Homo sapiens: one gene and its partners. The protein of the gene in region 7 purifies or fractionates together with the protein of the main gene of each other region. This does not show direct contact. Each region holds a gene or a part of one and is shown on either strand. Other genes may lie near its edges. The genes, in order: CPT1A, ENPP1, CA12, IGDCC4, HACD2, IGSF1 and FLVCR1.

The links.
Region 1: the proteins of FLVCR1 (region 7) and CPT1A purify together in Homo sapiens (affinity purification with mass spectrometry; one large-scale study listed by BioGRID and IntAct). This does not show direct contact.
Region 2: the proteins of FLVCR1 (region 7) and ENPP1 purify together in Homo sapiens (affinity purification with mass spectrometry; one large-scale study listed by BioGRID and IntAct). This does not show direct contact.
Region 3: the proteins of FLVCR1 (region 7) and CA12 purify together in Homo sapiens (affinity purification with mass spectrometry; one large-scale study listed by BioGRID and IntAct). This does not show direct contact.
Region 4: the proteins of FLVCR1 (region 7) and IGDCC4 purify together in Homo sapiens (affinity purification with mass spectrometry; one large-scale study listed by BioGRID and IntAct). This does not show direct contact.
Region 5: the proteins of FLVCR1 (region 7) and HACD2 purify together in Homo sapiens (affinity purification with mass spectrometry; one large-scale study listed by BioGRID and IntAct). This does not show direct contact.
Region 6: the proteins of FLVCR1 (region 7) and IGSF1 purify together in Homo sapiens (affinity purification with mass spectrometry; one large-scale study listed by BioGRID and IntAct). This does not show direct contact.

Annotation. Positions count from the first base shown.
Region 1 is NC_000011.10:68,771,775-68,776,087, forward strand, and holds part of CPT1A (carnitine O-palmitoyltransferase 1, liver isoform), read right to left. Parts: intron 3,659-4,313; coding exon 3,542-3,658; intron 1,656-3,541; coding exon 1,491-1,655; intron 1-1,490. UniProt on the Homo sapiens protein: Catalyzes the transfer of the acyl group of long-chain fatty acid-CoA conjugates onto carnitine, an essential step for the mitochondrial uptake of long-chain fatty acids and their subsequent beta-oxidation in the mitochondrion.
Region 2 is NC_000006.12:131,877,344-131,881,656, reverse strand, and holds part of ENPP1 (ectonucleotide pyrophosphatase/phosphodiesterase family member 1), read right to left. Parts: intron 3,116-4,313; coding exon 3,064-3,115; intron 1,778-3,063; coding exon 1,623-1,777; intron 1-1,622. UniProt on the Homo sapiens protein: Nucleotide pyrophosphatase that generates diphosphate (PPi) and functions in bone mineralization and soft tissue calcification by regulating pyrophosphate levels.
Region 3 is NC_000015.10:63,346,914-63,351,226, forward strand, and holds part of CA12 (carbonic anhydrase 12 isoform 1 precursor), read right to left. Parts: intron 1-4,313. UniProt on the Homo sapiens protein: Reversible hydration of carbon dioxide.
Region 4 is NC_000015.10:65,415,913-65,420,225, forward strand, and holds part of IGDCC4 (immunoglobulin superfamily DCC subclass member 4 precursor), read right to left. Parts: intron 3,658-4,313; exon of another isoform or gene 937-3,657; intron 1-936.
Region 5 is NC_000003.12:123,578,114-123,582,426, forward strand, and holds part of HACD2 (very-long-chain (3R)-3-hydroxyacyl-CoA dehydratase 2), read right to left. Parts: intron 4,217-4,313; coding exon 4,099-4,216; intron 1,657-4,098; coding exon of another isoform or gene 1,588-1,656; intron 1-1,587. UniProt on the Homo sapiens protein: Catalyzes the third of the very long-chain fatty acids (VLCFA) elongation four-step cycle (condensation, reduction, dehydration, and reduction).
Region 6 is NC_000023.11:131,272,698-131,276,661, reverse strand, and holds the end of IGSF1 (immunoglobulin superfamily member 1 isoform 1 precursor), read left to right. Parts: intron 1-413; coding exon 414-701; intron 702-896; coding exon 897-1,184; intron 1,185-1,375; coding exon 1,376-1,663; intron 1,664-1,784; coding exon 1,785-2,063; intron 2,064-2,455; coding exon 2,456-2,579; intron 2,580-2,730; coding exon 2,731-2,866; 3' UTR 2,867-3,156; downstream 3,157-3,964. UniProt on the Homo sapiens protein: Seems to be a coreceptor in inhibin signaling, but seems not to be a high-affinity inhibin receptor. Antagonizes activin A signaling in the presence or absence of inhibin B.
Region 7 is NC_000001.11:212,864,599-212,868,911, reverse strand, and holds part of FLVCR1 (choline/ethanolamine transporter FLVCR1), read right to left. Parts: intron 1-4,313.

The DNA of each region.
Region 1 (4,313 bases), on a different chromosome or scaffold from region 7:
GACTCTGGAGCCGCTGGCCCGCTTTATCCCTGCCTAGTGCCACCCTGGCAAGCACCTGGCCTCTCTGCACCTGTTTCCTCACCTGTAAAATGGGAAAACAAGATTTTCTGAGGCATAATGGGGACTTGTAAATTTTTAAAAATGGGATAACAAGAGTGCCTCCCAGGTGCAGAGACAGTGAAGCATGAGGTACATGATGCACCAAGCAAAATTCAACAATGGCACAATCGTTACCAAGGTTGGGGGGGCAGTGCCACACGCTGCATATGTGTACAGCACTCAAGTTTTAATACAAGGCTGGGCACGGTGGCTCACGCCTATAATCCCAGCACTTTGGGAGGCCAAGGCGGGTGGATCACCTGAAGCCAGGAGCTCGAGACCAGCCTGCTCAACATGGTGAAACCCCATCTCTACTAAAAATACAAAAAATTAGCTGGGCATGGGGGCGCACACCTGTAATCCCAGCTACTCGGGAGGCTGAGGCAGGAGAACTGCTTGAACCCGGGAGGTGGAGGTTGCAGTGAGCCGAGATCATGCCATTACACTCCAGCCTGGGTAACAAGAGTGAGATTCTGTCTCAAAAAAAAAGTTGGGAATATCTCAAGCCAATGCCACGATGACTTGTGCTGCCCCCAGAAACCAAGGGCCCCCTGTCTGGGATGGAATGCTCCCTCCAATGGACAAGAAGACCCATTTATGTCCCTGCTAGGGGTGCAGGCTGCTCCTCCAACAGGGGTTGCCAGGTGCAAGCCAAAATATGGCCAGTGCTCAGAAAAGGGAGATGGAAATGCCATGTGTATACAGGGGATCCAGCCCATGGCACCTCCAAGTGGCTGGAGTTTCTCCTTTTATGGAAGGAGATGTCAAAGGCCAGAGACGTTAAGTAATTTGCCCAAAGACATCACTTAATAGCTATATAATATTCCACTGTATGAAAATACCAAAATTTAATTTAGTATGGTGAAAGGAAGATTTACTCTGCCAAAAGGAAAGGATTAAGCTGAAAGCTAAGTCATGCAAGAAGCTTTTTATTTTGTTCCCAAGCAGAGAGCGACAGATGAAACGTGGACCATGTTCACCTGACCTGTGTGAAGTGCAGATTTACCGAGCGCCAGACGAATACGTAACTGACTATTCCCCTACCTGCCCACACTATTTCCACTTTAGCAAATGCTAGGATTCGGGGCTTATTATGGGGCTTAACTCTCCCTCTGTAGAGTGATGAGATCTCACTTTGTCCTCATCCCCCAGACTCTCCCTCTCCCGTGTCAGCTGGGAATCTACGCCTGCTGGAGGGGGATTTGCGAACTTTGCCCGCGTGCGTGGTGAAACACCCAACGCCACCCGGCCCCCGGAGACCGGGGTCGGGGGGAGCTGTGCTTCTCCTATGCCGGGTTTCGGGCCTTCCCTCCCCACTGGGTGAACAGTCTTGGGCAGGTGTAGGAACCCCCAAAGTGCTCACGACAAAACCCTAGGCGGTCAGTTCTTACCTTGTAGTGCGCCAGCTGGAGGGCCAGCTGCACAAAGGCGTCTGGGCTCGTGCGACATTTCTTGATGATTCCTTTACCAAAGGCTACGAATGGGAAGGAATGGAAATCCACGTCGTTTGCCAGAAGATTTGCGGTGTTCAGGGAGGTCTCTATAACCTCTTGACACTTGAGAGAAAGAAGAAAAAGGTTTTACGGAACGAGGGGAGAAAAGTACTGACGCACACCCAGAAGGAAATTGGAGGCTGGTTTTTAGTGCAGCTATAAACTCGGTACTGGGAAGTACACAAACGTTTTCCTGACCCAGAAGCCCTAGTAAGTTAGGGGCATGGCTCCCTGACCCCGGAGGAGCAGCTGCAATGTTATAGCAGGTAGCGGGTCTGACATGAGCAGGCCAGGAGAGGGCTTCCTCCGACACACACTGGGAATATCACGCGACCATCAGTGATGGTCAGGTGGTTGTGAACTGTCTCTCTAAAATAATAATAGGTCACAGCCGGTGCCAGGGAAAGGCAGTCTCTCAGTAGATAGAAATGGAGCTGGTGACCAGCAGCTTCCCGATAAGATCTCAAGCGTTGGGCGAGTGGGCTGAAGCATGCGCACTGAGAGGCAAAATGGCGGCGTCTAACTGGACTATGAGCTTCCTCCAGCAGTGCTAGACAGGCAAGGGCAGAACACCTCAAGTGAGCATGCGCACAACTCCAGTAAACATACTGCGCATGCTCCCTTCCCAAGCGCTGGAGCCACTGTGCATGCGGACAGCCCACAACAAGGGAGGAATTGGGAGAAGTAACACAAGACCCTGGACGCATGCCAATGTATAAAACCTCAAGTCAAGAGGTCAAACCTCGCACTTAATCTCCCAAGTTGGCCGCTTGGCCCTCTTCCAAATGTACTTTCCTTCCTTTCGTTCCTAAAGTTTTTAAAATAAACTTTCCCGCTTTTAAACTTGGTCTCTCCTGCCTTCTGCCCCACAGTCAAATTCGTTCTGAGAAGGCAAGAATTGAGGTTGCTGCAGACCCGTACAGATATGTTCTGACGCTAACAGGAACATGGGTAGGGGACGGGGGCACCCTGGCTTCCAGTGAGACCCCAAAGGGTGTTTCAAATAGTCACACGTCATCTTATGATGACGTCATCACACAGTGGCAATCAAGAAACACATTTTTTTACTTTTTATTATTAATTTTTATTTATTTGAGATAGGGTGTCCCTCTGTTGCCCAGGCTGGAGTGCAGTGGCACCATCGCTGCTCACTGCACCTTCTGCCTCCCTGGTTCAAGCCATTCTCCTGCCTCAGCCTCCGGAGTAGCTGGGACTACAGGCACTTACCACTATGCCCGGCTAATTTTTGTATTTTTAGTAGAGACGGGGTTTCACCATGGTGGCAGGCACCTGTAATCCTAGCTACTTGGGAGGCTGAAGCAGGAGAATCGTTTGAACCTGGGAGGCAGAGGTTGCAGTGAGCTGAGATCGCGCCATTGCACTCCAGCCTGGGTGACAGTGCGAGACTACATCTCAAAAAAAAAAAAAAAAAAGAAAAAGAAAATGGTATCTTGGACTCCAGGGAATTTCTCCTTGGATTAAGTGAACTAGGATTTGGTATTTGCAACCCTAAAATTCCTTCCCAAAAGGGCTCCTGTGAATGGGCTGCCTCTGAGCATGTTTAAGAGGTGCCAAAATGAATTAAACTTTGAGAAGTATAAATGAGCAATTTAGAGGCTTTCAGCTCTAACCTATGTGATTTTGGCTTTTAGTTTTTGATTATGAGCATTCTGTAGATGTCTAGTTAAGTTTAAGCTGGAAATAGCGCTGACAGTCTTAGCCAGGAGCTTCAAACAGAAGAAGAAATATTTACCGAGGCTTCCGAGGCAACAGGAGCTGTGACAGCCCCGCAGACCCACGGAACTCCCTGAGCAAACAACTTTCAGCCTCAGTGGTCTTCAACTGAGCTCATGATAGGGCAGGAACTACGGTTGGAAAATTCATCTGTAAGACTTCAAATGTGTTTCCCATCCCAGGTAAGTAACAATGGTTGGATAATCCGGACTTACTTCCCCCGGGATGTCCCACTGCAGCCTGGTGGGGTACGGAATGTTCGGATTGATGTCGCCTTTGCAGTGCCCATCCTCCGCATAGCCCAGCTGGAGGCTGTCAATGGACATGACGTACTGTCAAAAATAGAACAAAATTATTAAAACTAACAGTGGTACATAAAACACATTAACCTCCAACATGAAGAGAGGGTTGTTCTTTGCAGAGATGTTACAAAGTTTGAATCACAGCTGTTAAGGCTTCCAGTATGCTCAGCACCTAATGAGGTGGATCTGATCTCCATGTCAGATGTGACAGAGAGAGGACAGACGAGGGCTAAGGGCTTGCTCAAGTTTGTGACGCTCTCCTTTCACTGGCAAGTAAACCTAAGCCAATTTATTCAACGGTGTTTATTGGGCACCTACTATGGGTTGGAACCACTGTAGCATCAGCGGCATCCAAGCCCTGGTGACAGCGCAGACAAGAACTGTGTTTTGTGAACAAAACAGACAAGAATTCTTGCCCTTCCTTAAAAAGTGAAATATACCTGTATGACCCAGCAGTTCCACTCCTAGGTACATACTCACTGAAATGAAATGAATAGATGCTCACACAAAAACTTGTACAGAATGTTCAGAGCAGCATTATTCATAATAGCCAAAGAGTGGAAACAACACAAATGCCCATCAACTGATGAAGAGATAAACAAAGTGTGGTCAATCCATACAATGAGATATTATCCAGCCCTAGAAAGGAATGAATTCCAGGTATGTGTTACAACGTACTGAACCT
Region 2 (4,313 bases), on a different chromosome or scaffold from region 7:
CCTCCTCAGCCCCCCAAAGTGTTGGGATTACAGGCGTGAGCCACCGCGCTGGTCAATTTTAAGCTTTTATATAGTAAAATGTTGATTTTTAGAGATCTGAGTCTATCTTCCATAGTCAACTACACTGCCAAAAGTTGCTGGAGCAAAGGAGGACAGTCACCGAACAGCAATGTAAAAACCTCAAGCATCGCAATGACTGTAAAGTTATGCATTTTAATTACATAAGAAAACTGAAAATGGAATCAAGGAACCCATAATTAAGGTATAAATATTAATAAATAGGATGGGGTGCCTATGAAAAATGGTGTAGACTGATCAATTACAAAGTCAAAAATTTTTTTAAGTGTTTGGTGTTTGAAGACAGTATTGAAAAATTTTAAAAATCAAAGTTCAAGAAATTTTATATAAATATATGTGTGTATTATATATTTGTAACATAGAAATTATATATAAACAGACATATCCCTATCTTTTTATTTGGTTGTCTCACTGATTAGTAAAAATCATTTTATTTTTTAAATCAAACTGCTGCCCTCCACTATGCTCTCTCAAATCCCTTTGTCGTTCCCTTAGGGCATCCTGTACCTTGCCAGTCACTTTCAGTTTCAGCCCAGTTTAAAATTTCAATTCCACGTAAGATCAAAATCTCATCTTCCCCCTTCTCTCTTTCCAGCACCATCTCCTTCACCATTCCTCCTTCTACCAGAGCACCCAGGGGGCCATGGGTGAGGGGGAAGGCTGCTCTTATTCTGGGATATTTGCCCTCACTCCTTTCAAGGCCTAACTCCTCTGGTGTTGGTGGTGGGCAGGATTCTGGCCTCTCCCTGGTTTGGGCTCGTGTCTTCCTATAGATGGTACGTGCAATGATGTTACTGAGCTTTAATGGCTTTGCCAAACAGTGAGGGCCCCCTTAGATTTGGACAGCTGAGGGAAATACTTGTCCTCACACAGCCATGTATTTAGAAATGGGTAACTGTGACTGATCCTAAGGCTGATTTCATGCAATTATAAATTGGAATCATAAAATATTAAAACTGGGGTCGGGGAGGAAAAGAGAATTCTTTTCTTTCTTTCTTTCTTTTTTTTTTTTGAGATGGAGTCTCACTCTGTCACCCAGGCTAGAGTACAGTGGCGCCATCTTGGCTCACTGCAAGCTCCACCACCTCCCGGGTTCACACCATTCTCCTGCCTCAGCCTCCTGAGTAGCTGGGACTACAGGCGCCCGCCACCACGCCCGGCTAATTTTTTTATATTTTTAGTAGAGATGGAGTTTCACCGTGTTAGCCAGGATGGTCTCGATCTCCTGACCTCGTGATCTGCCCGCCTCGGCCTCCCAAAGTGCTGAGATTACAGGCATGAGCCACTGCGCACAGCCCAAAAGAGAATCTTTACTGCACGACCCTCATTTCACAGAAGAAATTTGGTCTGAGTTCTCAAAGTCATGCAGCTGCTCAGTGGCAGAGCTTGAACTGGAACTGAATTTTTCTGACTCCCTCTTCAGTGTTCCTCTAATGCGGGAACTGAGTATAAAGCCAAGGTGAACAGTGAGAAACTATGCATTTAATGTTCTGCTTAATCATTAATTTGAAATGGCCACACATAAAGAGGTGACAAATACTTGCATTTCTGTCCACGGTATAGGATGTCCAAAGGGGCATTAAGATGTCTTGGCTGTATCCACTCATAAACTGGTGCTGGGAAAGAAGACAGATGGTGTTTTCCTTCTGGAGAACTCTAGGTCTTCCATAGGGTAAAGTTTCATGCTTAATAATCTTCTCTTGGGTCACAGGATGAAAATAAATGTAGTTAGTGTGCATTATATGATAATATATAGTGTGATACACTCATCTAATCCTTTCCTCTACTTAATTATATTGAAGATTTACTTTTAACTATTAAAAAAACTGATTACAAAGGGTAGAAGCATAAACAATTAAGAAGACAAGTGAGGTTCACTGTTATTTTTGCCTATAAAGATTCTGAAATCAATGTAATATCAAGATACCATGAGGACACTATATGAAATTGCTAAATATTCCAGTTAATTCAAAGTTATATTACCAAAAATTCTTAAGCACTATTTTAATTACTTATTCTTTAGGACACACTCCAGAAAGCAAATTTTTTTAATGATATGTGTACTTGGAAAGCAGAAGTTCAGAATTGAAATTATGAGACTAAACTAAATAAAACAATAACAATATAGATATTATTTATTGCCCTTTTTCCAAATGTCAAGGGCTTGGTACACATCATATAACTAATTTTTACATTTCCCTATGAATTAAGGTTATATGCCCATTTTACAGATAAGGAAACAGCAGCTGACAGGGAATACTATTTCCATGAACATATAGTACCTAAGCTCATATTCAAACTTGGATCTACTCAATTCTGAAAGTGCCATCATTCACCACAATACTTTGCCACCTTGGAGATATCAAAGATTTTCCTAACTCCAGCATTTACCTAGGGATTTTATAGAGACAAACTTACATCAGAACTAATGCAGAATTTACCTCTTTATTCTAGTAGAAAAAAAATGTGTGCCAAGTAACTTAAGGCTGAGAGAGTGTATTATAGTGACTCCAAACATTCAAGTCATAAGTGAAAAATTTCATCAGTTGTCTGTGTATCCTTGATTTTTGGTCAAAAGTGATGCAGAAATAACTTTAGATCAATAAATCAATATATAACCTTGTATGATTAAGAACCAGGTGAGATAGAAACTTAGGTATTTCAAATGGGAATCTCAGTCTCTATTATCAACTTACAGAAATCATCAAAAATTTTTGAACACCTCCATCATGTTCACAAGGTGTGATTCAGCTTCCACTAAATACATTACATACAATATCCACTGCAAAATATCTCCTTTCCTTATGCCTAATAGTCTAAACTGTCAAGCAAAGAAACCTCTATGTTTCATCAGGTGGTCCTCCAGAACTCCCTTTATTTTATTGGTTATTCTCAAATAATACCCCCAAGCCAGTTCTCTGCATTTCACACTGATGAGAAAATGCCTGCTTCACATTCCGAGCTTGAGTGTGTAGCATGCCTTACCTTCTGCCACAGTCAGATTGAACTGTGTTTGAAAATCCTCAATCGGCAAAATCTAAAAAAGGTTATAAAACTATTTTTAAGGACTGAGAGACATGTTTTAAATTTTGTAACATAGAACCGCTATAGATTGATTATTCCAACATAGAACAAAGATCATTTATGATAGTCTTGTATTAGTGGATTTTTTTTTCTCTTTCAAGGCAAGAGTGTTGCTCTTTCACCCAGGCTGGTGTGCAGTGGTGCAATCATGACTCAGTGCAGCCTTGGCCTACTGGGCTCAAGCAATCCTCCCACCTCAGGCTCCCAAGTAAATGGGACTCCAGGCATATGTCACCATGCCCAGCTAATTTTTTTAGTTTTTTGTACAGACAGGGTCTCACTATGTTGCCCAGTCTGGTCTTGAACTCCTGGTCTCAAGCAATCCTCTCACCTCGGCCTCCCAAAGTACTGGGATTACAGGTGTGGTACACCATGCCTGGACAGAAGTTACATTTTTGATGAAAAGGACAGAAGGAGAGGAATGACAGTTGCAAAAGACAAAATTGTTAGTATAAGCATCACACCAGTAATTAAAAAATAAGAATATGATTGCTGCTTTATAATTCTCATCTATATACCCCAACAGTCTTTCTTCTATTCTAACTCAAGTCTAAAACAAAATGTAAAGCATGAAATAAACTACTCTCCAAATTGCTATATATATATATATATATATATATATATATATTTTTTTTTTTTTTTTTTTTTTTTTTTTTGAGAAAGGGTCTTGCCCTGTTGCCCAGGCTGGAATGCGATGGTGTGATCTTGGCTCACTGCAACCTCCGCCTCCCAGGTTCAAACAATTCTCCTGCCTCAGCCTCCCAAGTAGCTGGGATTACAGGTGCCCTCATGGATGTTATCAATTTTGTTCATAACTTGTCTAGTATTTTTATCTTTTTATAATAATGACATATTAACATGGAAGTAAAAAAGGACAGTGTAATATATTCATTTCATACCAAGAAATCTTTTTTCTCCCTACATTTAAACAATCTGAATTGTATTTTTAAAAAGGTACATTGTGATTGGTTTACTATGTGCTCATCACCTCACTGCTAGAGTTAACAGCACAGATTCCCTAATTCAGGATGCTCAAGAACTGAACTAGACTTCTCCACACCCGTACCCAAGTCAACTAACTAGACTTCACCACACCTGCACCCAAGTCAAGTCACAGCTCCAAGGAATTAAAAATAGAGTGGAAAATGCAA
Region 3 (4,313 bases), on a different chromosome or scaffold from region 7:
GAAGGACTAGGGCTGCACAGGCCAGAGCCAGAAGGCCACCGAACTCTGCTTTATTTTGTACATTGTTCCTGTTTGACACACACGTCAAGACCTGTTGACTTTCAGCAATTCAGCATCTGCTTAGCCAGTACCTATTATGAGCCAGGAATTACTCTGGGTCTTGGGGCTGCCAGGTTGAATACAATAGAGCCCCTGCTCATCCAAGCTGGCATTCTAGCGGGGAAGAATTTAGCAAATCTGCGGGGCCACCCCAGGTGGGAAAAATTAGTGTCTTACTGACCACAGTGCCAAGTATTATCTTGGTGCAAAAATAATTGCGGTTTTTGCCATTCCTTTCAGGCAAAAACCACAACTGCTTTTGCACCAACCTAAATAGGTCTTTGTGGCTGCTGGCTTTGCAAGTATGACCTTCCTGAAGAGAAACCCCTGAGGACATTGACTCTTGATACCCACATTTAGAGTAACTATAGAACCCAATCTGATAGGGATGATTGACAAATGTTAAATAATTATAGGCCTGGAATCACAGAGTGAAGTGCAGAGTTTAAGCTGGAAAAAAATATGACCACACTATAAACTAATTATTACAATATAATTGACACACTATCAGTGAAGAGGAACAGACTTTAAAAAAAGAAATTCCTCCAGGGCTCAAGCTTCTTGCTAACTACCAGATAGCAGTTCCTCCCCTGGAAATGAAAATAAACATGCTATGTGCAGATGAACTTTCCTACTCCCACAGGGAAAAAGTCTTTAAAGAATGTAAATCTATGTTTAAAAGATTATCTCCACGGTAATTAAACAGACTTTCAGGCCAAGGTTTCTCCAGAAAAGCAAAGAATTGGCATGTCATGGCTCGTTAGGGTAGACCCAGGGTGTCCTGTGGGCTCTATCAGAGCTGGGGATCAAGCTTTGCCATCTGGGGGTCCGTTCATCAGTATTTCAACACAAGGAAGGTGGGTAAATAGAGAAAAGGGGAAAGGAACACCACCTCTTCTGGGAATTCTTCTGTAGACCCCTGCACTGTTTCACAAGGGTGTAAATGTTATATTGGCCCCACAGAATCCCAACCCCCTACATCGTGCTCTCTAACTAGGGGACCGTATCTGAGAGTGGGAAGAATCCGAAGTGATACTTGGTACCCAGGTTCATTTCAAATGCTATGAGGCGTTGGTCCCAGGCTTAGTTAGTTCTTACTTCTAGGTCCGGACACACACATCGGAACCCTACTGATTTTTCAGGCTGTCAACCTTAGGCTATGCATTTTCAGAAATGTTACAGCATGACGGAATTGCAGAATCTCCAGTCCAACCTTTCACTGGACACCAGTCTTCTCACTTGGGCATGGCAGAGTCTCCGCTGAGCTCTACTATTCTTATTTTCAAGGCCTCAAAATAACTCAACTACACCAAGATGGTGACTAGGGAAGAGGGAGGCTGGAGGATATCAAAGCAGGCACTCCAGGGCCAAACTGGAGTAAGACAATTATTCAGCTGGGGGCCAAACCGAATGCTTTAGGGGCAGCGGGGAGCAGAATGAAGCAACCGTGAGGCCTCATGTAGAACCCCAGGGTCAGGAAGAGACACAGCACAGGGTAAGACTCCCTAAGTGAGGCTGCCAGCCTTTTCTGTGCTCACAATACTGCCTGGGCCCACAGCCAGCAGGGCGGAAGCTGCCAGCCAGGCATGAATGCAAAAAACTCAGGAAGTAAAGAGATGCATCATTGAGAAGCTTTCTCTTTGCACACATGACTAAAGGGAACTGGATTAGAAGGGTTTTCTTTTCCCACAGTGGAGGTTCAAAAAGGTTTCATCAAGAGGGCATTTTACTGATAGCTAAACGAGAGCCTCGTGAAGATAGGGACCCCTCATCTTCGTCTCTGTGAACCCATATTATAAGTAGGGTCACGTGCCCCCATGGGCATTTAGGAAACATTTTCCCAAAGAGTGAAAAAGAACAGAGGGCTTGGGAAAATGTGACTTGGGGAATGTTTCCTTTTTCTCTTGCTCTAAATACGCTTTATTGGAAGTTAGGACCAAATAAGGTATTTGGGGGGCAGGAAAGACTAAGGATATTAAAGGCAGTAGAGTTGGTGTTGGCAAAACCTGTCTTGGAAAGAGAAGCAGCTATGTTGGACCAGGGGAGTCCAGAGAATGAGATTCCAGCATCAGCTGTCCCAACACTTCAGTGGGTTATGTTCCCTGCTGGAGCCTCCATTGCCCTTCGTGCAAATGGTGGGGGTGGTGGGCGTAGTGGTGGGGATGGGATGTGTGTGGAAGCTATGTTCTGGAAGGTTCCTTCTGGCTCTTAAGCTCTGATATTTATTAAGAATACTAGGACTAAGCACCTTCTCCATCTGTCAGGCAAATTTGAATGAGTCAGAAAGGTTGCTCATGTCAAGGCAGCTACTGGGCATGTGACAAGGTGCCCAGGGGAACCAGCTTCGGGAATGAGGGCACAGGGCACCGGTGCTCCAGGACTGGCTGGGATCAGACAGCCATCTGCATCAGGAACCTGCCCTGGTCCTGGCTGCCATCCACAGCGGAGTTCGTCCTTGGGCACCAGTCACAGGTCTGTAGGTCAGCAAGGTCAAGAAAGCCTTGTCTTCGCCTCCTCCTCCTCCTCCTCATTGTTATTATATTGTAGTAGCTTTGATCCTTATAACTCTATAACCTTACGGGGTAAGCAAGGCAGAATTGCACCATTTTATGGGTGAAAAATAGAGATTTAAGAGATTTGCCGGAAGTTTGACTTTGGCTAAGTAACAGTTACTTTGCTTGGGTCACAGGACTTATGTGTCCTTCAGTATTTATCCAGGAGATTTTGTGCACCTGGAATTTCCTGGCTTCCCCACGCTGTCCTTGAAGACAAGGACCACGGCTCATCCATCGCTGCACTTCCCACAGTGCCTGGCACAGAGTGGGCCCTCACATGTTTACTAAGCTGAACTCTCAACACCTGTTTCATGCTTGTTCCTTTCCCAGGGAACGTGCACCCACCTTAATTCCCTCATGTATTTCTTCTCCTCAAAAAAGAGGAGGAAAAATGAGATCACTTGCTCAGGTTCAAAATGTACCCTCCTAGCTTTCTAGCTTACCTGTGTGCAAATGGTTTCTGTTTGGGGGCACTAATTGAAAAAGAAATCTGATTTCTGCCCTGTAGCCTGGGAGACGGCCTGCCAAGGAAGTTCATAGGGCCCTCCCCCAGCATGTAATGGCTAGTGGGTGTCCCCGCCTTGCATAGCTGGGGACACTGTCAGAGCAGCCTCCTGTCTTTGTGGCATGTGAGAGATAGAGGTGCCATGAGGGTGGGCACCGGGACAACCAATATCAGAGGTGACAACAGCAGGCCTTTCTGTTCCCTGAGCTGTGACATGTGACTGCACAGTGCTGGCCTTATGCTGGCCGCTACACCCTGGGCTACCATTTTCCAACTCAGTGTCAGCTTTCACACTCATGCCAAGTGCTCCACTGCCAGAAATCCTCCACTGGGAGTGACTCTCCTAAAAGAAGCATTTATTTCCAGCTAAAACTTTGCCTTTGCTCTTCTGAGTTTTGACTTCGCCTCTCCAGTTGGTTGGACTCCTCCCATGATCGTGATACAGGAGGATCACGTGTCTTTCACAGTTTGTTTTTCTAAATAAAGCCAAGGCATTATTTCTTTCCTGTCTATGTGTTTTTCCTGCTCTAGGCAAAACAGAAGTGGTCAGAATTCCTGTTTCGAAAGGTAACAAGAGATTAACATGGCACAGCTCAAAATGCCTCTCGTGATTTCTGATTGGGAATTTTGAGGCCCAGGGTGTAGGACCTGCATTATCCAAGGACCAGAATGTTTTTACAGAAAATTTCAAATGTATACAATGTAGAGAGAGGAGTGGAATGAACCCCATGTCACCCAGCTTGGACAGTTTACAATTCAGAAACAGTCCTGCCTCATCTATGCTAAGCCCATTCTCCCCTTATCTACCTGGATAACTGGAAACAAATCCAGATATATTTCATCTGTATATATTTCATATGTTTCTCTAAAACATAAGGGCTCTTAAAACCACAGTACCATGACCACACCTAGAGAGTTAAGAATTAATACCTTAAGATTACCGAATCCAATTAGAATTCAAATTTTTCCAAATAGGTCATAAATTTTTAACAGTTTGTAAATTTCAGGGTTCACATACAGTCCATATATTTTTTGCAATATTGCAATTAGAGGATGTGTTATGGCCTAGATTACAGCTTGATGGTGGAATGCCTCATCAGAGAACACCTGGGCCCCGCTCCTCCAAGGCTCAACATCTCAGAGCCAGCTTGGTC
Region 4 (4,313 bases), on a different chromosome or scaffold from region 7:
AGACAAGGGGGTGTGGTGGGACAAGCCTGGCCTCAGAGTCCTGGGTTCTAAGTCCAGTCATTCATTGCATGACCTTGTGTGAGCTACTTTTGTCCTTTCAGCCTCAGTTTCCCCAATTTTAAAATGAGAAGTCTCCAAACTTCTCAAACGTTTTCACCCAAATTCTCTCAACAGCAGAGGAACACATATTTACGAGGCTCGCTGACTGCCTAAAATGTTTTGACTTTTTTTTTTTTTTTTTTTTTTTTTGAGACTCGCTCTGTCACCCAGGCTGGAGTGTAGTGGCGCAATCTCGGCTCACTGCAAGCTCCGCCTCCCGGGTTCGAGACATTCTCCTGCCTCAGCCTCCCGAGTAGCTGGGACTGCAGGCGCCCGCCACCATACCCAGCTAATTTTTTGTATTTTTAGTAGAGACGGGGTTTCACCGTGTTAGCCAGGATGGTCTCAATCTCCTGACTTCGTGATCCGCCCGCCTCGGCCTTCCAAAGTGCTGGGATTACAGGCATGAGCCACCGCGCCCGGCCAAACCTCTAGCACATTTTGCATTCTGCTCCATAACACAGCAATATTTGTTTTAATATAAGTGTGGCTCCCATACCACCAAATCTTTTCATAAAAGCGATGCTCTGGGGAGGGGACCTTATTTGTCCAGGAGCTTCATGGCCAGCGCTTACTTGCCACCCCCAGCCCACTGTCATGGCTGACCCCCAACATTTTTAGCCCTCCCTCTCAGTGCCGGGGTGGACACATTGCAGGTGCCCAGTGGACACTTGCTGCCCGCTGGCTTTCTGTCTTGAGGGGGCCACCCCTCCCATAATCCCTTCTCCTCAATCTCCTCAGTGAGACCCTGTCAGAGACACAGAGCTGCTGCATTTGGGAACCCTAGGGCCACCTCTCAATCTCCTTTTTCTGACAGATTATTTTACCCACTTACAGGATAAACTGGATTTTATGAGGCCAATTAGAACCCAGACAGAAAGGAGATTCGCTGCTGAGCTCCAGGGCCAGCTCAATGCTGTTTCGTGGGATTAGTGGAGGCCTGGCGTGAGTTCCATTTTTCAGTGAATTCTTAGGGAAGGGGCGTGTAGCTGGGGGAGGGGAACAACGAGGCCAAGATGGCTCCTTTATTAAGCCAGGAACTTGCCACAAACATCACATCAGTGCCTCCTCACTTCTGAATTTCAGGGCCCAACAGATTTACTACTTGTTTGCAGCCCAGGAGAAATTCTCCACGACACCATCACCATTCTCCTTTCCCAGAGAACACAAGTCGGTTCCTTCCAGAAACCTTCCTTCCTGCCCCCAACCTTGGCCACCTCCCTTACCACATGCTGAGCCCCTCCCCCCAACAGCTGGAAGGAGAGTTGGGACAGTTGCCTGGGACACAAGGAAGGCCTCAGCTCTCCCTTCATCTGCAATCCTGAGGGGAGAGTCTCAGCCTCAGCCTATCCAACAGCAAAGCCAGGCTCAGCTTGACCTGCCTATCTCCCGCTCCCCTGAGACCCTCTACCCCTCCACACACAGCAAACCATGGCCAATTCTCTGAAAACACATCTTGTTCCACGCATTGCTGGTGCTGCTCTCACTCCCTAGAACAGCTGTGATGTCCCTGGTTGATTTAGACACCTCTCCTTTTTCTGCCCCGTAGAACGCTGGCACCCCCATCATCGCAGTTATCACTCCAGATTTTTTTTGCGGGGGGAGACGGAGTCTCACTCTGTCACCCAGGTTGGAGTGCAGTGGCATGATCTCGGCTCACTGCAACCTCTGCCACCCAGGTTCAAGTGATTCTCCTGCTTCAGCCTCTTAAGTAGCTGGGACTACAGGTGTGCGCCACCATGCCTGGCTAGTTTTTGTATTTTTTGGTAGGACGGGATTTCACCATGTTGGTCAGGGTGGTCTCGAACTCCTGACCTCAAGTGATCCGCCCACCTTGGCCTCCCAAAGTGCTGGGATTACAGGAGTGAGCCACCATGCCCAGCCTTCACTCTAGGTTTTTGACTTGCCTTTCTCCTCAACTAGGCACCAAAGTCTTGGGGTTATGTCTTAGCTTTCTAAATCCTCGGTACCTGGAACAGTGCCTAACACACAGTAGGTGCTCAATAAACATTTCTTGAATGGATGAGTGAACCCATGAAGACATCCTCAAAAAGATAAGGCATAGAGCCCCCTATGCTTTTCCAAGCATCAGTTTCCTTATCTGTAAAAACAACAGTAACTCCCTTCAGGGCAAGAAAGGATGTCAGGAAGACATGTGGAAACTGCCTAGCACACTGCGTGGCACCCAGTAGACATGACATGCTTGAAAAGCAGAGATAGAACAGCTGAAGTCCACACTGAAAGAAACCCTGTACTTAAACATGACCAGGCTGGGGAGATCACTACCTTGCCTGTTCTCTTGCTGTATGGCTCATATGGTTAAAAAATTTATTTCTCTTGTGCCCACCTGTCTCTCCCAGTACTTTCTGCTCACTGGCCAGAGCTTTGTCCTGCAAACTATCTAACAAGGTCATAAGTCCCTTATAGAACCATCCAGGAGTCTTGGGTCTGCACCTGAAGGACAGCTTATTGGTCCTTGCTTCCCTGATCCCAAGGACCCCATGGGCCCCCAAATCCAAAGGATACCTCACTCAGCCTCAGCAGTGAGGCAGTAGTAGCTGGCAGCCCAGTTGGCACAGGTAACAGGGTTTGATTTCTCTGCATGTCAGGCTCCAAAACATACTCTCTGGTTTTCCTTCCCTGGCCCCCTAGCTCCTGTCACCCACCTCTGACCAGGCTGGGGTCCTCTCCCTCAGAGCCATGCTTACTCCTCCCCCTGCCCCCAAGCCTGCCTGGTAATGACATCTGCTCTGCATCTGGAATTCCGTATCAAGTCTGGTTGCTGTACCATGGGAGAGAATAGAAAGAGGTGGGGGGGGTTAAGTGGAGGAGGGTGGATTCCAGAGCCCAGATAGACCCACTTGAGAGGGAGAGCATGAAGCTGATAACGTCTCAGAAGGTATAGAGGAGTGCAAAGAGAGTGAACTTGGGTATCCCTAGAAAGGGTGGCCCCATTTCAGTCCCTAATCATGTAACTTTGGGAAGTCACTCAGTTTTCTCATCTGTAAAAACAGGTTCATGCTAAAATTGTTTCTTCTTTTCTTTCTCTTTCTTCTTTTGAGACAGAGTCTCACTCTGTTGCCCAGGGTGGAGAACAGTGGTGCGAGCCATCATAGCTTACCACAGTCTTGAACTCCTGGGCTCAAGCAATCCTCCCACTTCGGCCTCCTGAGCAGCAAGGACAACAGGGAACACCACCATGACCGCCATGCTTTTTTTTTTTTTTTTTTTAATTTTTCGTAGAAATGAGGTCTCAATATGTTGCCCAGTCTGGTCTCAAACTCAGCTCAAGCGATCCTCCTGCCTCAGCCACACAAAGTGCTGGGATTACAGGTATGAGCCTGGCCTGAAATTATTTCTAAGTTCCTCTCAGTGCTGACATTCAATGATGCGCTAATTGTGAAATTGCTTCACTTGAAAGAGATATGTTTAGGAGAAAAGAAATGCTAATTAACATGTAAATGTGTGTTTAATTGAGTCATGAAAGCACATAGAGGATCAATGAAGGTTTAGGTATCTTCTGGATAAGATTCATTATTAAAAGAAACTCCAACTGTTTGACCTGATTCCTAACTTCCAAGATGGGGAAAGAGGCCCACCCCAAATGACTGAGATTGGCCTCTGAGCCTCTGGGCTGAGAAAGGGATGGGGGAGGTGAGGAGTTCCCAGGTGAGGAGAAAGCTCTCAAGTTCTTAGAGGCCTCCCATTACTGACCTCTAGGTTCCCTACCCTCCAAATTCTGACTTGGGAAGAAGGGAGAGCCGAGAGCCCCACCTTTGTGCGTGTGATAAGAACAGAGCTCGGCTTCTCGCCACCTGTTCACAAAGGGGTCCCAGTCCCTGACTCAAGAACAGTGTTGGGAGGAGATGGGCAGGCACAGGCATTATCCTAACCCCAATACCAGCCCTTCATTCTGCCTCATGTTTTTTTGTTGTTGTTGTGTTTGTTTTTTTGAGACAGAGTCTCACTTTGTCGCCCAGGCTGGAGTGCAGTGGCGTGATCTCAGCTCACTGCAACCTTCACCTCCCAGGTTCAAACGATTCTCGAGTCTCAGACTCCCGAGTAGCTGGGATTACAGGCATGCACCACCACACCTGGCCAACTTTTGTATTTTTAGTAGAGATGGGGTTTCACCATGTTGGCCAGGCTGGTGTTGAACTCCTGACTTCACGTGATCCGCCCGCCTTGGCCTCCCAAAGTGCTGGGATTACAGG
Region 5 (4,313 bases), on a different chromosome or scaffold from region 7:
GAAATCATACTATTTGTGACTTTTTGTATCTGCCTCCTTTCACATGCATTTTTTCAAGATTTATCCAGGCATATATCAGTAATTCATTTGCCTTTATTAATTTTATGAATGTTTATATCCATAGACCACATTTTATCCATGAGTAGCATTTTATTTATAGATACTTTTTTTTTTGGAAATGGGGTCTTGCTCTGTCACCCAGGCTGGAGTGCAGTGGCACGATCATGGCTCACTGTAGCCTTGAACTCCTGGGCACAAGTGATCCTCCCACCTCAGTCTCCTGATTAGCTGGGACTACAGGCATGTGCTACCATGCCTGGCCAATTTTTTAATTTTTTGTAGAGATGGGGTCTCGCTATGTTTCCCAGGATGGTCTTGAATTTCTGGCCTCAAGCAATCCCCCCATGTCAGCCTCCTAAAGTGCTGGGATTACAGGTGTGAGCCATGGTACTCAGCCAGGCTTCCTTTTGTACCTTGCTACTACATGCTCCTTTGTACTTGCTTGGTAAATGTTTTTATGTCTTTTAAAAAGCAAAGTGTTATTATTTTCTTAAGAAGATGTGAAATTGGAGAACAAGTAATTTCGATTTCCTTTTTAAGTAAACTCCCACAGAACCTAATAAAGAATAACATTTAGCATAAAGAGATATAAATGAGTAGCTGCCTTCCCTGGATTCATTTTCTCCTCCTGTAAACAGGATATATGTCAACACTAATAATTCCCATCAGGATAACTTATGTGTAATTAAACAATACCACACACATCTAATTATTACACAGTGTAGATGGGGTAGGCAATGAAAAACTCCTCAACCACAGAAATTGTGGTTTTAGCAAGCCTGCTCTATCGCCCAGTCCAAGGGATTACTTCCATCACTGACCTTTGCAACGTTAATTGCCTGCATGTTCCTGGGAGTCTTCACTTCCTTATGCACAGACATTTTCCCAAAATCAAATCCAGGATTTGTCACTTAATTGGTTCTTAGTGGGGATAACAGAGATAAAACCAAAAATCCAAGATATTTTCCTAAATCCCTATTAAAAATTCTATAAGGATAAACAGGCTAATCCTTCAAAGTCTAAGACTTGGTTCCTGAGTGGATTTTAAAGTATGACACTGTTTAATGTCCCTACCTTCCATAAGATATACTTAAATTTTAAAAATTATACTTCTAACATTACCAAGTTTTTTTTTTTTTGAGACAAGGTCTCACTCTGTCATCCAGGCTGGATTGCAGTGATGCAATCATAGTTCGCTGCAGCCTCAAACTCCTGGGTTCAAGCTCAAGCCTCCCATTTCAGCCTCCCAAGTAGCTGGGACTACAGGTACCCACCACCCAGCCCAGCTAAAAAAAAAAAAATTTTTTTTTTGTAGAGATGAGGTCTTGCTATGTTGCTCAAGCTGGTCTCGAACTCTTGCCCTCAAGTGATCCTCCTGCCTTGGCCTCCCAAAGCTCTGGGATTGCTGGGACTATAAGCATGAGCCACTGTGCTCAGCTCTAATATTATGATGTCTTAAAGAGATAGAAACCCCTTTAAATTATTGAAGTATTCCAAATGGGGACAACCCCCTACTATATCAAGTACTGGAAGTCTGATGGTCTTGACTCCAAATTTGCTTCTCTGTAGCTTGTGGGAACTGTACTGGCCAAGGTTCTGAAAGAGAAAGTACTACTTATTTACTAGTGTCCGCTTCCAAAAAAAGTTCAAGCCTCTAAGTTTAAAAAATGGTTCACATTAGGATTTGTTAAAATTTCCTCACACTCAAATTTAGGGTAGTAAGGGACTTTAGAAATCTACTTTAACCTAATTATTTACAAATGAAAAGGAGGTGGATACGAGAGAAAAGACTTGCCCAAATCTATAGAGTCAGTTGGGAAAACTATTATACTTAAAATAAAAAGGTACTCAGGCTTCCAGCTGGAAGCTCATTTCATCATACCACCTACTTAAAATGCCTAAGTTTGGACACTATTGAAATTCCTCTGTGTTGCAGTGAGCCGAGATCCCACCACTGCACTCCTGCCTGGGCAACAGAGTAAGGCCCTGTGTCAAAAAAAAAAAAGAAAAAAGAAAGAAAGAAAAAAAGAAATTCCTCTGCCTTCTAAGAGAAAAAAACAAAAGCAAAATGGATAACTTTCTGATCTAGAACGTGAGAGTGAATCCAGCCTGGGAAACACAGCCAAACCTCACCTCTACCAAAAATATAAAAATGAGCCAGGCACGGTAGTGCACGCCTGTGGTCCCAGCTACTTGGGAGGATGAGGTGGGAGGATGGCTGGGGCCTGGGAAGTCAAGGCTGCAGTGAGCAGTGATCACACCACTGCACTTCAGCCTGGGTGACAGAGTGACCCTCTCTCAAAAAAATAAATAAATAAAGTGAGAGTGGGCTGGGTGCAGTGGTTCACGCCTGTAATCTCAGTGCTTTGGGAGGCTGAGATGGGAAGATTGCTTGAGCCAAGGAGTTTGAGACCAGCCTGGGCAACACAGGGAGACCCTGTCTCTATGAAGTTTTAAAAATTATCCATGTATGGTGGTGCAAGCCTGTGGGCCCAGCTACTCTGCAAGCTGAGGTGGGAGGACTGCTTGGTCCCAGGAGTTCAAGGCTGCAGTGAGCCACGGCCATGATGGCACCACTGCACTCCAGCCTGGGCGACAGAACAAGACCCTGTCTCAAGAAAAAAAAAAAAATTGAGAATGAAAGGTAGAGGTATCACACTTCATTTCATGAGATAAAGAATTTTTTTTTTTTTTTTTTTTGAGACAGAGTCTCGTTCTGTTGCCCAGGCTGGAGTACAGTGGCGTGATCTCAGCTCACTGCAACCTTGCCTCCCAGTAGCTGGGACCACACGCCCGTGCCACCACACCCGGCTAATTTTTGTATTTTTAGTAGAGACGGGGTTTCACTGTGTTAGCCAGGACGGTCTCAATCTCCTGACCTCGTGATCCACCCGCCTCGGCCTCCCAGAGTGCTGGGATTACAGGCGTGAGCCACCGTGCCCAGCGAGATAAATGATTTTTTCTTAAGTATCATTCCATAGTTCAGGTTTTAAAAGTTGCCAGTAAAGTATAAATGTTATGATGGTCTTGCCTGGAGGCTAAGCAAAATGAACCAGATCTTCCCTGCAATCTGAAGGTTTTTCACCATAATGAAATATACGAACTATGGCGGCTATTGATTTTGTGTGCCCAAAGCTATCCCCATCCCTCTTTTCCATAAGCAAAGTCTATAGTCCCTTGGACAGAAGAATGGGCATGTGTCCTAAGATTGGCTAATCAAGCACCTCACATCACTGGCATAGTCTAAGTAGGGCCAACCAGAATCCTCTCTGGGAACTGTGTGACACAGATGCTGCGAAAAATAAACACCCTCCCTGTTTCCCACCATGTGGAGAGCCCAAGACCAACATTCAAAGAGAAACAGACAAGCAGAAATGAGAGAAAGCAAGAGAATCTGGCAGTGTCAGCTCCTTGGTTCTCATTCCTGAGCTAGTTTCTTTGTAAATTAATCCTGTATCTGTATCAACTACAGAGGCCAGAAAATTCCTTTTTTGCTTAAAATAGTTTGAATTGGGTTTTTGTCCCTTGCAATTCCAAAATCCTAATCTATACTTACCCCAAGAGAGAGGGCTGGATATACATTGCCCTTAATGCAGGGAAATCAATACATTTTTGTTAAATTTTTAAAATTTGGACGCCTCTAGACAGGCTCTCTATTATGTCTTCTATCTATCACTTCCAATATCCTACACCCACCAACTTCACTATTTCTATTACATAAACCCTGAAAGCATCTGATTTTGCCAGTGCTTCCCCAGGATGTCCCTAGAATTTTTAAAAATCCTAATATAAGCTTGCTTCAGTTGATTTCCCAAAAAAGTCGAATATAAAATACATTCAAGGTAACCTAAGTTAAATGAGATTCTACCCAATCTAGAACATCAAAAAGCCTAGGTATCAACACTTTAGTATGTGAGGAGGCAAAATTTCAAAATTTAACATGAATCCAAAGGGGGTATGCTACTTCAATATAATTTAGTTGCATGTTTTTCTTCATACCAATGGAAATCAATAACAACAATAAATCTCAGGACCTACCTCCAATAAGGCTCCAGTTTGAAAGAATTTCAAAGGCTTTTCAATTGAATAATAAAGGCTATGGTAGCTACCCTTAGCCAGGTATGCTCGGACCAGACCAACCGCTATAACCAGCCACCTAGTAAAAGAGAAAACAGCAATCAGGAAAAAATAAAAATAAAAAAAGTAGCATTTAGGTTAACACACAGCTGTGGCAATAAAAGATATTGCTAAAG
Region 6 (3,964 bases), on a different chromosome or scaffold from region 7:
TATTTCTGCACATTTTTATGGCTTGGCATTGAGCTTTAGGCTCAATGTCCACTTTTTCTCTAGCTGGGCTGTCAGAGACCGGTGGGCTGGATGGCTCTCAGAGAAAGGGAGAAGACCTTGAAATGTCAGCTGCATACTACACAACTACACAACTGTGCATAAGTGGAGTCCCAATTATGTAAACAGTTATAGCTACATGGACATGGGAATATATGGAAAGAATAAATGGCAATTAAATATTAAAAATATTTATCTTTGAGTGGTAGAATTGTGTTTCCTTCATTAGTTTTTTTTTCTATATTTTCTAATTTTTAACAACAAACATATATTGTGTCTTACAATAACACTTTAAAAGGCTATTTGCAGGATGTGAGGGCTGGGTTTATCTCATGCTGTGGTCTCTTTAATTTCAGAATTCTACCCCAAACCCACTCTCCTGGCACAGCCAGGTCCTGTGGTGTTTCCTGGGAAGAGTGTGATCCTGCGCTGCCAAGGGACTTTCCAGGGCATGAGGTTCGCCCTCTTGCAGGAGGGAGCCCATGTTCCCTTACAGTTTCGGAGTGTCTCAGGGAACTCAGCTGACTTCCTTCTCCACACTGTTGGAGCAGAGGACTCTGGGAACTATAGCTGTATCTACTATGAGACAACCATGTCAAACAGGGGGTCATATCTCAGTATGCCCCTTATGATCTGGGTGACTGGTAAGGACCGACCGGACATGGGACTGGGATGGAGATCATTGGAGAAGGGGTTAGGGAGAGTAATTCCTCCTGGAAGGCTAGGCTAGGCCACGGAGGGGAACTACCGTGCCCAAGAGGAGAAAGATAGAGTGTTAATTTAAGCAGGAACTCATAAGTTTCTATAGTCACCACTTTACAACCTTGGTCTCTTTCTAGACACATTCCCTAAGCCATGGTTGTTTGCTGAGCCCAGTTCTGTGGTTCCCATGGGGCAGAATGTTACTCTCTGGTGCCGAGGGCCGGTCCATGGAGTAGGATACATTCTGCACAAAGAAGGAGAAGCCACTTCAATGCAGCTCTGGGGATCCACCAGTAATGACGGGGCATTCCCCATCACCAATATATCTGGTACTAGCATGGGGCGTTACAGCTGCTGCTACCACCCTGACTGGACCAGTTCTATCAAGATACAACCTAGCAACACCCTGGAACTCCTAGTCACAGGTAAGGGGAAGAGGCTGTCGAGTGGGCATGGAAGTGTAGAAAGGAGGGAATAGACTAGTTCATGGGAGATAGTTTTCAGAGAGCTCGAGGAGAGGCAACCAATTGCCTTTCCTCTTTATTGAGCAGAGACCCCAGGGGTGATGCACTGGAAAGTGACCTCTTCTCTTTGACCAGGAGTTCATTTCTTCCAGGCTTACTCCCCAAACCCAGCCTATTAGCCCAGCCTGGTCCCATGGTGGCCCCTGGCGAAAATATGACTCTTCAGTGTCAAGGGGAACTGCCAGACTCAACATTTGTCCTGTTGAAGGAGGGGGCTCAGGAGCCTTTAGAGCAACAGAGGCCAAGTGGGTACAGGGCTGACTTCTGGATGCCAGCAGTGAGAGGTGAAGACTCTGGGATCTATAGCTGTGTTTATTATTTGGACTCTACTCCCTTTGCAGCTTCAAATCACAGTGACTCCCTGGAGATCTGGGTGACTGGTAAGGTCCTGGAGACTTCAGTACAAGTCACGATTTTGTAGTTTTTAGCAGTAAGCAATAAGGGGGTAAAAGGCTAAGTTCAGGATCATTTCTTTTAACTCTGTGTCCTTGTTGGTTGCAGATAAGCCCCCTAAACCCTCTCTGTCAGCCTGGCCCAGCACCATGTTCAAGTTAGGGAAGGACATCACCCTTCAGTGCCGAGGACCCCTGCCAGGTGTTGAATTTGTCCTAGAACATGATGGAGAAGAAGCACCTCAGCAGTTTTCAGAGGATGGAGACTTTGTCATCAACAACGTAGAAGGAAAAGGCATTGGAAACTACAGCTGCAGCTACCGCCTCCAGGCCTACCCTGATATCTGGTCAGAGCCTAGTGATCCCCTGGAGCTGGTGGGGGCAGCAGGTAAGAGAATAATCTCTCCATGGTCCTGGTGTGACACACCTGGGATCCCAGGGACAGTCCCCATGGAGACATCCCAAATCAGGAGAATGGAGGAGCTTTGGAGCCAGGGACCTGAAGTGTGTCATCTTTCTCCTAAGGATGATGAGGAGGTGGGACCTTAAATATATTTGAAGATAGTGAGTGGGTTTCTTTTCAGGCCTCTTTTCCCCAAGGAAAGGAGGGCTGCTTCTGCTTCAGCATAAACTCTGCCACTGCCCACCCCCTCTGTAGTCTGAACAGATGGCTCCCACGTGAACCCTAAAGAAGGCCAGAGTGTGGGGCAATACCAGATCAAGGGGAACATACACACGCTAATCTCCATGGCCTCGGTTTCTCCTCTTTCATCACCACAGGGCCTGTTGCTCAGGAGTGCACTGTAGGGAACATTGTCCGAAGTAGCCTAATCGTGGTGGTTGTTGTAGCCTTGGGGGTAGTGCTAGCCATAGAGTGGAAGAAGTGGCCTCGACTGCGAACCAGGTAAATAAATGCCTCATTATGGCCCCCTTCTGTGAACCAGGTGGTGCTAGAAAAACAATCATACAAATGCTCCCCTAGTATCTGAGCCCCACCGTGCAATCTGTTTTCAGTTTCTGGGTCCTCCCTTACTCATGTCTTTTTCTTTACATAGAGGCTCAGAGACAGACGGAAGAGACCAGACCATTGCCCTTGAAGAGTGTAACCAAGAAGGAGAACCAGGCACCCCTGCCAATTCTCCTTCATCAACCTCTCAGAGAATCTCTGTGGAACTGCCCGTTCCAATATAATAATCTCCTCCTTTACAAGAGCTTTCCTCTCCTCTCTCTTGCTCTCAGAGACCTATAAATCCAACCAGTTACCCTGCAAGTCAGCCCCATCTGCTGTTCCTTGGTCTCTAATCACCTGAGCTGGGTAAAGGGGATTCTGGGAGTTGAGAGCTCTGCCAGGGTGAGATGTTTCCTGAAGAGAGGTTCCCCACCCCTGTAACTCCTCACTGTACTGATTTACTGGCGCATGAAATTCTATTAAAAATGCATTCTTCTGAATAAAAAGAGTATTCACTATTTAACTTCAAAAACTATGGCTGTGGTCTTCTATTGGTCTGTTTTCCACTAACAATTTAGAAATGATGTATTGGAGCTGATCTCGATGGCAGAATAAGAGAGTGCAGGGGTACGAGAAAAGAGAAAGTTGTTCAAGGATGGGCGTGGGGAGGGGGCTCCAAAATAGCTACTTCCCAATTTGGTTTGACACATAGTCACTGACCAGAGTATTCTTTTGCCCTTCCATGGGATAGATGAATGAATGAATGGCAACACTCTCTCCAAGTTGAGCCTGAGGAGGGAAAACACAGACATTACATGCATTTCATTGTGTTACGTTTGGGTCCATAGTACATCCACTTTCAAACAGTGGGATTGGCCCTCAGCAGCACTTTGAAACTGGAAAAGCGCGCTTTGTGACCCTTACCTAGCAATCACAGGGTGTAAATGAATTCACTCTTAAGTAAGAACAATTAATCAAATCTGATACTTTGTCCCTCTCTAAAGAGAGTTCCATTTTCCCAAAGGAATGTGCGTGTAATGGTGGGATCTCAAGAAGCCAGTAAGCAGATGAGGTGGATGGTTTGGAACAGGGGACCTGCCAGTGTCGCCTCCCAGGATTCCAAATGGGGAAATGGTGGGGCGGGGGGCTAGCTCCCATTCTCAGCCACTGATCTTTCCCCCTGGATTAGAAGGCCACTTGCCCCATGAGTGGGAATTCAGTACACATTAGGCCATTAGGCCGTTTGGAATGGGGTGGGTGGCTTACCTAGTTCCTCAAAGCTTGTTAAAGACCTCAGAAAAAGTGACCTACAGGTCTGAGAGGGGGTCATGACCCCTTCA
Region 7 (4,313 bases):
GATAAAATGTAAATAACAATAGCAAGCTGTTATGAAGATTACATGATACAATATATGTAAAATAATTCTGTAATTATCAAGTGCAACACAAAAATATTGTCTTTTTTTGAGGAATATTTATTTAAAAAAATCAGAGACTGCCTCAGGAGTTTGAAATTCTTACAGACTAAGTTAAATGTATTTCTGTTAAGAGTATGCAGCCGGGCCAGGCATGGTGGTTCACGCCTATAATCCCAGCACTTTGGGAGGCCGAGACAAGCGGATCACCTGAGGTCAGGAGTTTGAATCCAGCCTGACCAACATGGAGAAACCCTGCCTCTACTAAAAATACAAAATTAGCCGGGTGTGGTGGTGCACGCCTGTAATTCCAGCTACTCGGGAGGCTGAGCAGAATGGCTTGAATCCGGGAGGCAGAGGTTGCGGTGAGCGGAGATCGCGTCACTGCACTCCAGCCTGGGCAACAAGAGCTAAACTCTGTCTCAAAATAAAATAAAATAAAATAAAGTTTATAGATATCTTGAATTAAGAATCAAAAGCAGCTGGGCATGGTGGCTCATGCCTGTAATCCCAGCACTTTGGGAGCCCAAGGCAAGCTGGGAACAGCCTGGGCAACATGGTGAAACCCTGTCTACAAAAAATATAAAAAATAGCCAGGCATGATAGCACACACCTGTAGTCCCAGCTACTCAGAGGGCTGAGGTAGGAAGATTGCTTAAGGCTGGCCAGGAGATCAAGGGTGCAGTGAGCTGAGATTGTGCCACTGCACTCCAGCCTGGGTGACAGGGCGAGACCCCATCTCTTAAAAAAGAATTAAAAGTAAAATTATCACACCTGTAATCCCAGCACTTTGAGAGGCTGAGGTGGGCGAATCATGAGGTCAGGAGATCGAGACCATCCTGGCTAACACGGTGAAACCCCATCTCTACTAAAAATACAAAAAATTAGCCGGGCGCGGTGGTGGGTGCCTGTAGTCCCAGCTACTCAGGAGGCTGAGGCAGGAGAATGGTGTGAACCCGGGAGGCAGAGCTTGCAGTGAGCCAAGATCGCGCCACTGTACTCCTGCCTGGGTGAAAGAGCGAGACTCCATCTCAAAAAAAAAAAAAAAAAGTAAAATTATGCACACATTATATGCTTATGTGTTTAAGCATATTAATATTAAATATTTTTATTGTGATTACTTTTGGCTTCTGTCATCCACTCATTTTAGTGAATCAGGAAAGTATTTTAATTGACACATGAGTTAAATGACATAGTTTACTGCTCTGCTGCACAAGAACAGCTTTTAAATACAACAGCATTACCACTTATGCAAGAATCTGAATTCGAACAAAAAATAAGGCTCAGTAAAAATTAAAATGTTATTTTTTATCTGTAACTTTTATATAGGGAGTTAAATTGTCTAGGCTTAAATCTGACCTTCAGTGTTTACTATAACCTTGGACAAATTAGATTTAACTAAATTCTGTGCCTCAGTTTCCTTGTCTATAAAATGGGAATATTGGTACCCTCCTCACAGAGTCATGAGGATTAAATGAGATACAGCATGTAGTAAGCCTCCAAACATGTTTGGCACATACCAACAAACCAAATGTTTGAGGCTATAATAGAGTTCTCCTAATAGGAATAGGGTATTAGTGTGAAATTCAGTGGAATGCTTGGGTTAATTCCTGGAAACACTAGATGGATTATACTCAATATAAGCTCCATGAGGGAGAGGAACAGTTACATGGCATGAACCTTTGAGAAAATATTTTAAGCAGACTGCTGAGTATCAATTTAGTACATGTCACGTTGCGGAAAAATCTCAACAAAATTAAATTATTTTATGAGGACGTGGTGGGACTTCCAAAGTAAGTATGGATAGAATTCAGAGAGAAGTAAAATCACCTTTTAGTAATTAAGGAACTTTATTTGGTATGGATTTTTTTAAGTAATCCAAAGTTTGCTCAATAGCAAATATTTGGGAATGAGGAAAACAAGTATGTGTTCTATTTAAATGTCACAATTTTCAACTTAAGACTTTCATATCACAGCTGTATACTATCTTGCTTTTATAATATGCTTGGGATCATAAAATTAAAATTAGAGTCCTCCAAGCAAAAGTTGACAAAGAGCCTTTGTTTAATGCCATATTTCCCATTATTTTCCCCTCATTTCTATTTCCACTCTCTACCTGTAGGCCATGAGTACATAATTAGTTAAGTACATAATCAGATCTCTTTTAATTTCTCAAATAACAAAGGGTAATATGCCAATAGTCATACCTATTATTATCATTCTTGGTCTCCCTCCTTCAACAAGTAAAGATCTTTTATTTGTAGCAGTTTAAACATACACACATCACATGTATGATTTCGTGATATCTTACATGCAATCTCTTACTTTCTCACTTCTTTCTGAGACAAGCAATTGAAGAGGATTTAAAAAAAAAAAAAAAGGAAAATCAGAATTTATGTGAAGACACAAAAGTAATCAAAAGAAAGAGAATTTTGGCCGGGTGCAGTGGCTCACACCAGTAATCCCAGCCCTTTGGGAGGCCGAGGCAGGCAGATCATTTGAGGTCAGGAGTTCGAGACCAGACTGGCCAACATGGTGAAACCCCATCTCTACTAAAAACACACAAAAAAGGCCGGGCTCGGTGGCTCATGCCTGTAATTCCAGCACTTTGGGAGGCCAAGGCGGGCAGATCACCTGAGGTCAGAAGTTCGAGACCAGCCTGGCCAACATGGTGAAACCCCGTCTCTACTAAAAATACAAAAATTAGCCAGGCATGGTGGCACGCGCCTGTAATCTCAGCTACTTGGGAGGCTGAGGCACAAGAATCCCTTGAATGTGGGAGGCAGAGGTTGCAGTGAGTCGAAATTGCGCCACTGCACTCCAGCCTGGCTGACAGAGCAAGACTCTGTCTCAAAAAAAAAAAAAAAAAAAAACCAAACCCCAAAAATTAGCCAAATGCCTGTAATCCCAGGGAGGGAGGCTGAGGCACGAGAACTGCTTGAACCCAGGAGGCAGAGATTGCAGTGAGTCCAGATAGCGCCACTGCCCTCCAGCCTGGGTGACAGAGCGAGACTCCGTCTTGATAAAAAAAAAAAAAGAGAGAGAATTCTATACTTTAAAAATCCCTATTGCTGGCCGGGCCTGGTGGCTCATGCCTATAATCCCAGCACTTTGGGAGGTTGAGGCAGGTGGATCATTTGAGGTCAGGAGTTTGAGACCAACCTGACCAACATGGTGAAACCCTGTCTCTACTGAAAATACAAAAATTAGCTGGCATGGTGGTGCATGCCTGTAAGCCCAGCTGCTCGGGAGGCTGAGGCAGGAGAATCACTTGAACTTGGGAGGTAGAGGTTTCAGTGAGCTGAGATCATGCCACTGCACTCCAGCCTGGGTGACAGAGCGAGACTCTGTCTCAAAAAAAAAAAAAAATCCCTATTGCAAATGGAAGGTCCATTTATGCAAAATGTATTTCCTATTTCATCTAGCAAATCAAACATGGCTACCAGAAAAGCAGACTTAAGAATTGTGGTGTTTTTACCGCATGCTCTCACTCATAGGTGGGAACTGAACAATGAGAACACATGGACACTGGAAGGGGAACATCACACACCGGGACCTATTGTGGGATGGGGGGTGGGGGGAGGGATAGCATTAGGAGATATACCTAATGTAAATGACGAGTTAATGGGTGCAGCACACCAACATGGCACATGTATACATATGTAACAAACCTGCACGTTGTGCACATGTACCCTAAAACTTATAATAAAAAAAAAAAGAATTTTGGTGTTTTTTTTTTAAGAATACAAATTTCTTTTAAAACTTTGCTAAACTGCTAAAATAGGATAGGAATAATGTGTCCTTCTTAGTAGTCTGCACATCACAAATATGCCACTCCATAACTAACTGAAAACCAAAACCAACAAGTGGATTACACATGTTTGAATACTTCATATGTTACCAAGAGAACATTCTGCTCATTATATTAAGGGAAATTAAGTATGTGGGCTGAGCTTCCTGTACCTGGATCCTGCAGTTCATCTACCAAGGCAGTCTCTACCCAAACACTCTAGAATCTTCAGCATACATTTCTTTGAAAACTAAGAATTTTATATCTGGAGATCACAAAATATGAATTTTCCATTACTATTATAGCCATTGTAAAAACTAGTATATAAATTTAAAACTCCAGCTATAATGAAATTATAAATTTGAATGATTAAAAGATGGCATTTCAACTTTATTAGTTCTTTTCCTCTTCAAATCAATTTCAGATGAGTGCCTAAAGGGCAATATTATAGTTATGCTAGCAGCTA